Linked DNA regions of Homo sapiens: all the other regions are linked to region 1. Evidence: fine-mapped expression QTL. A gene starts in region 1. Each other region holds a variant in brackets. All regions are shown on one strand. Distances are from middle to middle.

What was found. PIP is the estimated chance that this variant, and not a neighbour inherited with it, causes the effect. A credible set is the group of variants that fine-mapping cannot tell apart.
Region 2: its variant is the best candidate, but not a certain one, in a credible set for the expression of TRMT11 in cerebellar hemisphere (GTEx, PIP 0.67).
Region 3: its variant is the best candidate, but not a certain one, in a credible set for the expression of TRMT11 in cerebral cortex (GTEx, PIP 0.77).

What each region holds. Positions count from the first base shown.
Region 1 is chr6:125,984,764-125,987,530 of GRCh38, forward strand. It overlaps TRMT11 (tRNA methyltransferase 11), which reads left to right and starts at 1,777. Exons shown (of 13, transcript NM_001031712.3): 1 at 1,777-1,859. The coding sequence starts at 1,788. RefSeq lists enhancers at 1,000-1,830, 1,808-2,297, 1,831-2,660.
Region 2 is chr6:126,009,190-126,011,956 of GRCh38, forward strand. It overlaps TRMT11 (tRNA methyltransferase 11), which reads left to right. Exons shown (of 13, transcript NM_001031712.3): 9 at 2,064-2,228. Among named protein-coding and RNA genes, the nearest start is that of TRMT11, 24 kb to the left of the region's middle. The variant C/T (reference allele first, on the strand shown) is at 1,653.
Region 3 is chr6:126,052,712-126,055,478 of GRCh38, forward strand. It overlaps a transcript of TRMT11 not described here. Among named protein-coding and RNA genes, the nearest start is that of TRMT11, 68 kb to the left of the region's middle. The variant T/C (reference allele first, on the strand shown) is at 1,724.

The sequences.
Region 1 (2,767 bases):
CTCCTGCTGGTTTCTGAGGTGGAGATTTAGTATAGATTTAGTCCTGAACTGTAGCACAAAGGAGCTGGGTGAAAAATCAGTGACACCTGATTCCATTTGGGTTCTCCAGGCCTTGTAGTCTCATTTGTCTCTATATAGCATCATATTAATCCAGGCATGAAAATCAGCAATTCTTTGATATTCTCTATAAAGTTGCCCCATCAAAATTCCATATTAATTTTGCTGAAGATTTGACAAGTTCTGGGGATGGGGCATATCAAGTACTGCACATCATTTCCCCAACATCTCATTGGTTTTCTGTCCCAACCTTGGCCTCTCTTCTCAAATAGTAAACAACTTTTCTTGTCTCAAAGTACTTTTACCCCCTTTTCTGAAGTTTTGGGGTCAAGAGACAGCTATGCTTCTCAGAGTCACTTAGCACAAGTGAACTTGAGACATATTCCTAACAAAAACAGATCTCTTGCTAACAAAAATTCTCATGTGATTTTCTTAAGAAAAATGTCAAGTGCCACTTATTGGCCCCATTCAATATGCCAGATGTTATATTCAACACTTTATGAACATTATTCCACTTAATCCTTGTAACAATCCTTTGCAGGAGGCAGTGTGTTTTTCCATTTTTAAAAGAAAACTCAAGCTCGGAGAGGTTAAGAGCATATACATGGTAAATGGTGGAAGTGAGGTTTGAATCTAATATTGACACCACAGCCTATGTTCTTAATCACTACCACTGCGCATCAACTACGTTTCTGGCACATGCCGCTGGGGATATGCCAGATACATACTCTTTTGCACCTTGTACAATACCACAGAGAAATGCAAAATAAATAATTTTTAATAGGGCAAAGGGCTCGGTACTCTCAAAAGCAGAAATAGCCCAGAGGGAGGGCTTGAGCCCGTAATTCTAGCACTTTGGGAGACTAGGGTAGGAGTATCCCCTGAGACCAGGAGTTCAAGGTTACAGTGAGCTATGATTGCGCCACTGCACTCACCTGGGTGACAGAGCAAGATTGTCTTAAAAAAAAAAAGTCACATATATACATAGAATATGCAATTAAAATATATTTCATAAACTATCTGCTATGAAATCTGTGCCAGTGTGAGCTTTCTCCAAGTTTTAATTTATGGCTGGCTGTGGATTTAGTCCTGAGTCTAACAAATAACACAACCTAATAATTATTGCCTACTTTGAGGAAGATATTCTTTTGGTTTTTGTTAAGAATAGAGTGAACCATAAAAGATTATATCAGACCTCAAGAGTTTATTATAATTGGGTTATAAGGCATGTGCTCTCGAAAAGTTGTTACATAAATACGAAAAATATACTGTTAAATGACTGGCCCAACTAAATCAGTTCCCAAAGCTGTGCTGGTTAGACAAACCTACAAGGAAATGGTGAAATTTCCAAGGAAATGGTGAAATTTCAGTCCAATTTTGAAGAACAGGTTTTGAAGGGCTGTAGAGAAAGCTGGAAGCACACTCCAAGTGGAACGATAACTTGGAAATATACTGTCTTATTATCACAGGCTGCTCCTGAAAGCCACGCGTCCCCGCTCACCAGCTACCAGCGCTGGGAGACCCCTAACCACCAGGCATTCACAGGTGAGGAAGCCCCTCCCACAGCGGCCGGAGTTTCGGACTCGGAGCGCGAGAAACGTCGGGATAGCGCCTGCCTCGCAGAGCTTCCGCTTCCGGCCCTTCAGGCTCTGTCTCTGTGGAGACTGGGCTTTGGGAGGGAGAAAGAGGGACCTAGCGCGGGCCGCGCAGGCGCACGGTGGGCAGCTGCAATGGCGCTGTCGTGTACCCTTAACAGGTATCTGCTCCTCATGGCGCAGGAGCATCTGGAGTTCCGCCTGCCGGTGAGTCCGTAGCGCCCTCCGGAACTTCCGACGGAAGAGGACGCTGGAGTGGAGTGGAGTGGGTGGAGGTGATCTGCATAGCCCGAGGAAGCTGGGATTCGGGGGTCTTCGCTGGTCTGCGCGGGTCACGCGTCCCCAGTCCTCGGGCGGGGTGAGCTTGGCGGAGGGTGTGTGTGAGAGAAGTCCGAGACCAAACCCCTCGGCCTGCTTAAACTTTTCATTCTTTTGCCCGTGTATCAAGTACCGGAGTTAGGCAGGTGAATATGACCGGTCATCTCACTCCCGGAGCTCTTCGTCTAGCGGAGAATAGAGACAGCTAACAAATGCTCAGGCTGGTGTTTGAAGTATTGGAATCTGCGGATCAAGCTCAGTGGAGGGGATGGTGGTGGGGATTAGATGATGGAGAAGTTGAGAAGAGTGTTTTATTTATTCAAGAAACGTTTTCAGAATGCATGTAGTCGAAGATCGGTACGCTGGGCATGTAACGATGATGTAAGCAATCTCTGCCCTCTAGGAGCTTACTGTTTAGAGTAAGGGCTGAGCAGACACATAGGCGTAGAATGACAAAAGAGCGTCGGTAAGTGCAGTGATAGATGCACATGGAAATATGAGAGCACGTGGAAGGGAAATCTAATCTACCTGAGGGGTTGGGGATGTTGGCCTTTAAGAGGGCTTCCAGAGGAGATGACACTTGAAATAAAGGATGAATAGGAGTTAGAGGGCCAAGGAGATAAATCAGTAAATTAGAATTACAAGGTGTTCATTATTACTGGATCACTAGTTATGTGGCAGAGTGGTAAGAAGAGAGCAAGGGAAGTAGATCGAGGCCAGAAAATGAAAACCTTGAGTACCCTGGAGCTTGGAAGGGGGATTTATTGAAAAGCCTTAAGTAAAAAAGTGACCACAAA
Region 2 (2,767 bases), 24 kb after region 1:
TGACTATATACTGGATTAATAACTAGTCTTTGAGGTACTATTTATGTTTCTAATTTTATAACTGACCAAAACCTCTTTAAAGTAACTTTAAAGATTCTGCCTTGAACTGAGAGTACTTGAAACAGTCATCTGCTTTACTTTTCAGGTAATTATGGAAAATATTTTAAACTCTAGAAGCTTCAATAATGATGTGTGATTGGATGGAATTGAATCAAACTGAAAAAGTATTTCCTTATAGCTTAATGGTATTGAAAATGTCATTTTATTGATGATTTTGAGATTATTTGTGTTTATGTTGGTATTCATTATAATAACTGGGATCAGCCCTTATAATACTCTTTTCCTTTTCCTCACCCAGTATAAGTTATTGTATTGGTGAGCATTTATTATACTTTATTTTCTTTTGTGGAAGTAATTTGATATCTTGTACTGGTGACCTGTCTTTTTCCCTACCTTGACTGTAAAGAATTTAGTAACATTTATTAGGAAAATGAGTTATAATTTATTAGGTGTATATAAATGGGCTAGCAAGAAAAAGATATTCTTTATCTGAAATCTGTTTTAAAAAGTACTAAGAATTATTCCAATTTGCTTTTAGTAGAAGCAGTATATTTCTTTTAAGGAAATTGTCTTATATAATTTACTTGAATTTTTATTTATTAAAGTTATGTTTGGAAACTTATGTTGTAACCTTCAGTCTACTGGGGTAGAATTCTGATTGAGGTAGTTCCCTTAGAGCTTATCCAAGATACTGTTAGGTATACCCTCTGTTTCCTGTGGTTCTGAACTCTTACTTTATCCTAAAATATTCTCAAGTTTCTCCTGTTTTAAAAGTACAAAACTTTTTTTTTTGGCAAATCTGTAGAGGTTCTCTAGCTACCACTTTGTTTTCCTTTTCCATTTGCCAAAATGCTTCTTGAAAAACTAGTATAACTTCTTGTCTCCTCTTCTTCATCTTTCACTCTCTTCTGGCCATTATTTTCCAGCTTCTGTGCCTATCATTCTGTTGAAAACGCTAACAAAGGCCACAGATTTATAGCATTTGACAGTGTTGACCTTCATACAGCTGCTCTTGGTTTCCTTGACAGTGGTCTTGGCAGGTGGTACTTTTACTTTTTTGTTTCTTCTCAGTCTACTTGATGCCCTGCAATTTTCTTTGATTTATGTTTATATATTGTTTTTTTCCAGGCGTCTACCTATCTTTGAGCACTTCTCCGTCACACTGCATGTTTTTCAGAGTCATGTCGTTCTTCTTTTGATTTTATAAGAATAATTATAGAGCAAACATGTAACTGCCTCCTAAGTGAACAAAAAGAATGTTATTCAGCCTTATGGAGTCAGTATAAGATTATATGCTGATAACTCCAAAGTCTGTATATTCTGGCCTTCAACTACCTGCTGAATGTCCCCACTGCGTATCTTTTTCTGAAAGTTCTGCAGGTACCTCAAGGTACATCAAGATTGATATATCTTAAATGAATCTAATCTTTTTTCTTAAGCTTGTTTTTCTTCCTGGTTTCTCTGATATTAATCACTGGTGTCATCATCCTAAACTATCATGTCTCCTAAACAAGGAACTTACGAGCTTCTTTAGCCTTCCTTCCACTCCCACTTTAACTTTCATTAGCAATGTCTCCATTTTGCCTCCCTTC[C/T]TCATGGTCACAACTGCGGCATTTCCCAAGTTCGCTCTCTTCATTTCTGTTTCATTTATCTGATTCATACTATCTCTACACAGGACTGTTTACTGCTGGAAGAAAGGAACCATATTCTCTTCAACTCTATCTTACTACAAAAATCTTCGTACTTGAAAATATCGAATGAGTGTTTTAAGGCAGTTTTACTTGGAAGTTGACAGAACAAGATAAGTTAGACATCAGTACATTTTACTGTTATGTTGAAATTAAAATAACTATTTACTTGTATACATAAAATTAAGATTTTAAATGAAAGCAAATTTTGAATAAATGTAGGTTTCAGTGAGTTAAAACATTACTTTTCCTAAATGACAGAAAATAAGAATACTCTGTTTAATACTTTCTCTCTTCCTTTTTCTTTCCCTTCAGGAAAGGCTACTAGGAAAAACCAGAAGTGGAGAGGACCAGATGAAAACATTAGGGCCAATCTTCGTCAATATGGTTTAGAGAAGTATTACCTTGATGTCCTGGTTTCAGATGCATCTAAACCTTCCTGGAGGAAGGGCACATATTTTGATGCAATCATTACTGATCGTAAGTTTATTTTTATACAAAAGTAGGAGTAGGATTCGTTTTGTAAAATCATTTACATTTAAAGTACAAAATTTACCAACACATGCACAAAATGCCAACTTGTCAGTATTTCTCCCATCTACCCCCAGCTTCTTCATCTTGTAAGGAGAAAGTTATGAAGGTACTTAACTACCTTGTTAAGGGCTTACTGTTTTGTTTTTTTAAACAAATATATTGGCTTGCCATCCCCTGTTATATCCTTTTATATTAACTTGTCACCCGTTTTTCCCTTCAGCTTATTTTTTTGAGGCATATATTTAGTATTTGTTTTTGTATTGACTATAATTGGTTATTATACCAACTGGAGCTCACATGTCATTTGCAATTATGGTGTCAAATTTTGAACAGAGTTTCAGATATCACACATTTCTCTATGTGTAAGCATTTGTGTTTTTGTAGTGCCTGTTTTCACTGGCATCTCCTTTCTAGCATTACAAGAAATTTGGGGTTCTGTGGAACCACTGGGCCTGTGAACCTACTGAGCTTCAGGAATGTGCATG
Region 3 (2,767 bases), 68 kb after region 1:
CTGATGACATTTAAGTCTACAGTCTTATCTTTTGGACCAAAATAAATGAACAAAGATCTAGTTTTTGATCTTGCATTTGTTAGCTTGTTTTCTCTCTTAGTTTTGGAGAAACAGATCAAGAACCTGAAAACAGGAGAACCATGTTTTTGCCTCCAGTCTGTCTTTCTGAACCCAAAGAGAAGCTCTTTCATGATCCTAAGTGGGTTCCTAAGGAAACAAGAAGGGCAGGACTGGTGCTGTGTGATGAATCAGCTTTCTGGGGAAGACCTGACCCATTTCTGCTAGGGGTAAATGGCCCAGAAGACTTGCTCCTATGGCGGGGGATGTCACCTGATGCATTGGAACCTAAGGCTAGACCTTGAAGTGTACCAAGTTCATCTCTGTGTCCTTTTTTTTTTGCCTCTCAACAAGGAATTAGACATAGTCCTATCCTCAATGAGCTCATGGTCTGGAGGATGGCGGTGGTATGAAACAAAGAGGTAAGTAGTCAGTTAAAATAGTGTGATCCGTCTTTCCACAGGGCAAGCCCAGTGTGAGTCTAAGAGGAGCACCTAGCCACTTCTAACAGTGGTAGTGTATTAACCATGTGTTTCTGATGTTTTGACATCTGGGGCTTTGCTGACCCTGGAGAGACCAGAACCAGCCAATTCCTAGAGATAAAGGTTTCACCTTCCTTCAAGTGTGTCTTTTATAGAAACTAAACAGTCCAGAGTCCACTCACTCTATTTCCTCTTTTATACAGCTTTTATGCTTTGGGTCACTATTTCTCAGACCTAATCACTTTTGGGCCAGGTACCAGGTAACTTAGGGACAACCCCTATACCCCAGAGCCTGCTGAGATTATTCAAACTAGCTAATCCTATGCCTGCTTATCCTGCCTTACCTGTTCCTTCCTCTGGAAACCACAATAAAGGCTCTTGTCCACATTTTCCCCTCCCCTCTGCCTCCTGAACGACCCTGGTCCTTCCCCACATGGCCCTGCATGGCGTGGTGTGTCCTCTCGAGAGCTTCGAGGAACAAACTGTCTTTTCAATTAAAATTGTCTTGTGATCTGTTGGTCTCACCATACCTGAATAATAATAAAACCTACATTTAAAAACACGTGAGAGAGGACTGGATCAAGGAAGAAGCCTGAGAGATGACATCTAAGTTAACCCCTAAAGAAGTGGAAGTTGCGTGATCATGTCAGGGGGTGAGGGCGGGAAGGGGGATTCCAGGCAGAGAGAATAGCACTGGAAAAGCATATTTGGGTAACAGTTCAACTAGTTGGTGTGCCAGGAGCTAAATGCATTAGCCAAAGAGGAGAAATGAAGCTGGACAGGTCATGAGAGCCAGATCCTAAAGGACTCATACGCCCTGCTGCAGAATCTGCACTTAATTCTGGGAGAAGCCCACTCCCTGTGACCTCCTCTCCCCTTTGGTAATGCCAAGGCTCTTTGGGAAGTTTTAATTTCTTTCAAAATGGTGTCCTTGGCTGAAGTGCTTGAGTTCCTTGACAAAGGGTGCCTGTAAAGAGGGAGTCTGTGGCTTTGCCTTTGCTCCAGGGTCTGTTTCTGCCTTGGTTCTAGGTCTCAGTTAATGCTGTCTTCTAAGTTGGGTGAATTGCATAGCTGAGGCTGCTTGAATTAAGGCATTGACACCACAAAGCTTCCATTTCCCCATCTATAGAGCCCCCCTAGGTGCCCAGTTACACTGTGGTAAGAGATTGCCCAGATAAGTACAG[T/C]AGAAACCTTCCTGACCCTGACTGACAGATACTTGCTCCAGAGCCAAGAAACAGTCACATGTTGGCCTCCTGCACCGAGGGAGATGATTTTTATTGATTTCGCTCTTCACACAGTGCTGACGGTGTAGGCCTGCTGAAGAGCAAGCTGATGAAAATAAAGATTGTGGGTTGCCAGCTCATGTTTGTCCTTATCTCCAAGGCAAAATACAAACACTGTTTCAGGGAGCTGCTTCTCCGCTCCAAGACAAATGAGCTGTTGAAGTGTCATGATTTTAAAATCTGGTGATATACATAAAGGATATTTTACTGATCAACCTCAAGGAATCTGTCATAAATAAAAAATAGTTTGTGATTCAAGCACTGTTGCCTATTTCAGAACTTCACCTTGGAGCCCACTCTGCTGTCTTCTGAGACACAGGGTGCTCCCTGAAAGAAAACAGCTCAGAACTCCCAACACGTCTCTTTCGCATCTTTCCTTGAAGATTCTTACCAAGAGCAACCAGGCTTTTTGAGTCACCATATGCTGACGAACATTTTTGTTGTTTTTTGAGACAGGGTCTGGCTCTATAGCCCAGGTTGTAGTGTAGTGGTGCAGTCTTAGCTCACTGCAGCCACAACTTCCTGGGTTTAAGCAATCCTCCCGCCTCAACCTCCTGAGAAGCTGGGACTACAGGCACATGGCACTTCACTCATCTAAGTTTTATATGTTTTGTAGAGACAGGGTTTCTCCATGTTGTCCAGGCTGGTCTTGAACTCTTGGGCTGAACTGATCCCCTTGCCTCGGCCTCCCAAAGTGCTATGATTACAGGCATGAGCCACTGTGCCTGGCCTTTACGACCTTTTAAAAACCCATTACTAATGAGGATGAGAGGAAGGACAGCATGGAATCCTCTAGCCCTTGCTTGTGGCCCGCCTGGTTTTCTCTAACACTCCCTGCCTGCTTCTCCTTCACTATTTACTGCATGCCTGGCATATGCCAGCCAGCAACCACTATGAACATCAGATGAATAAAAGATACATGTCTTATGTTGAACAGTTGTACAC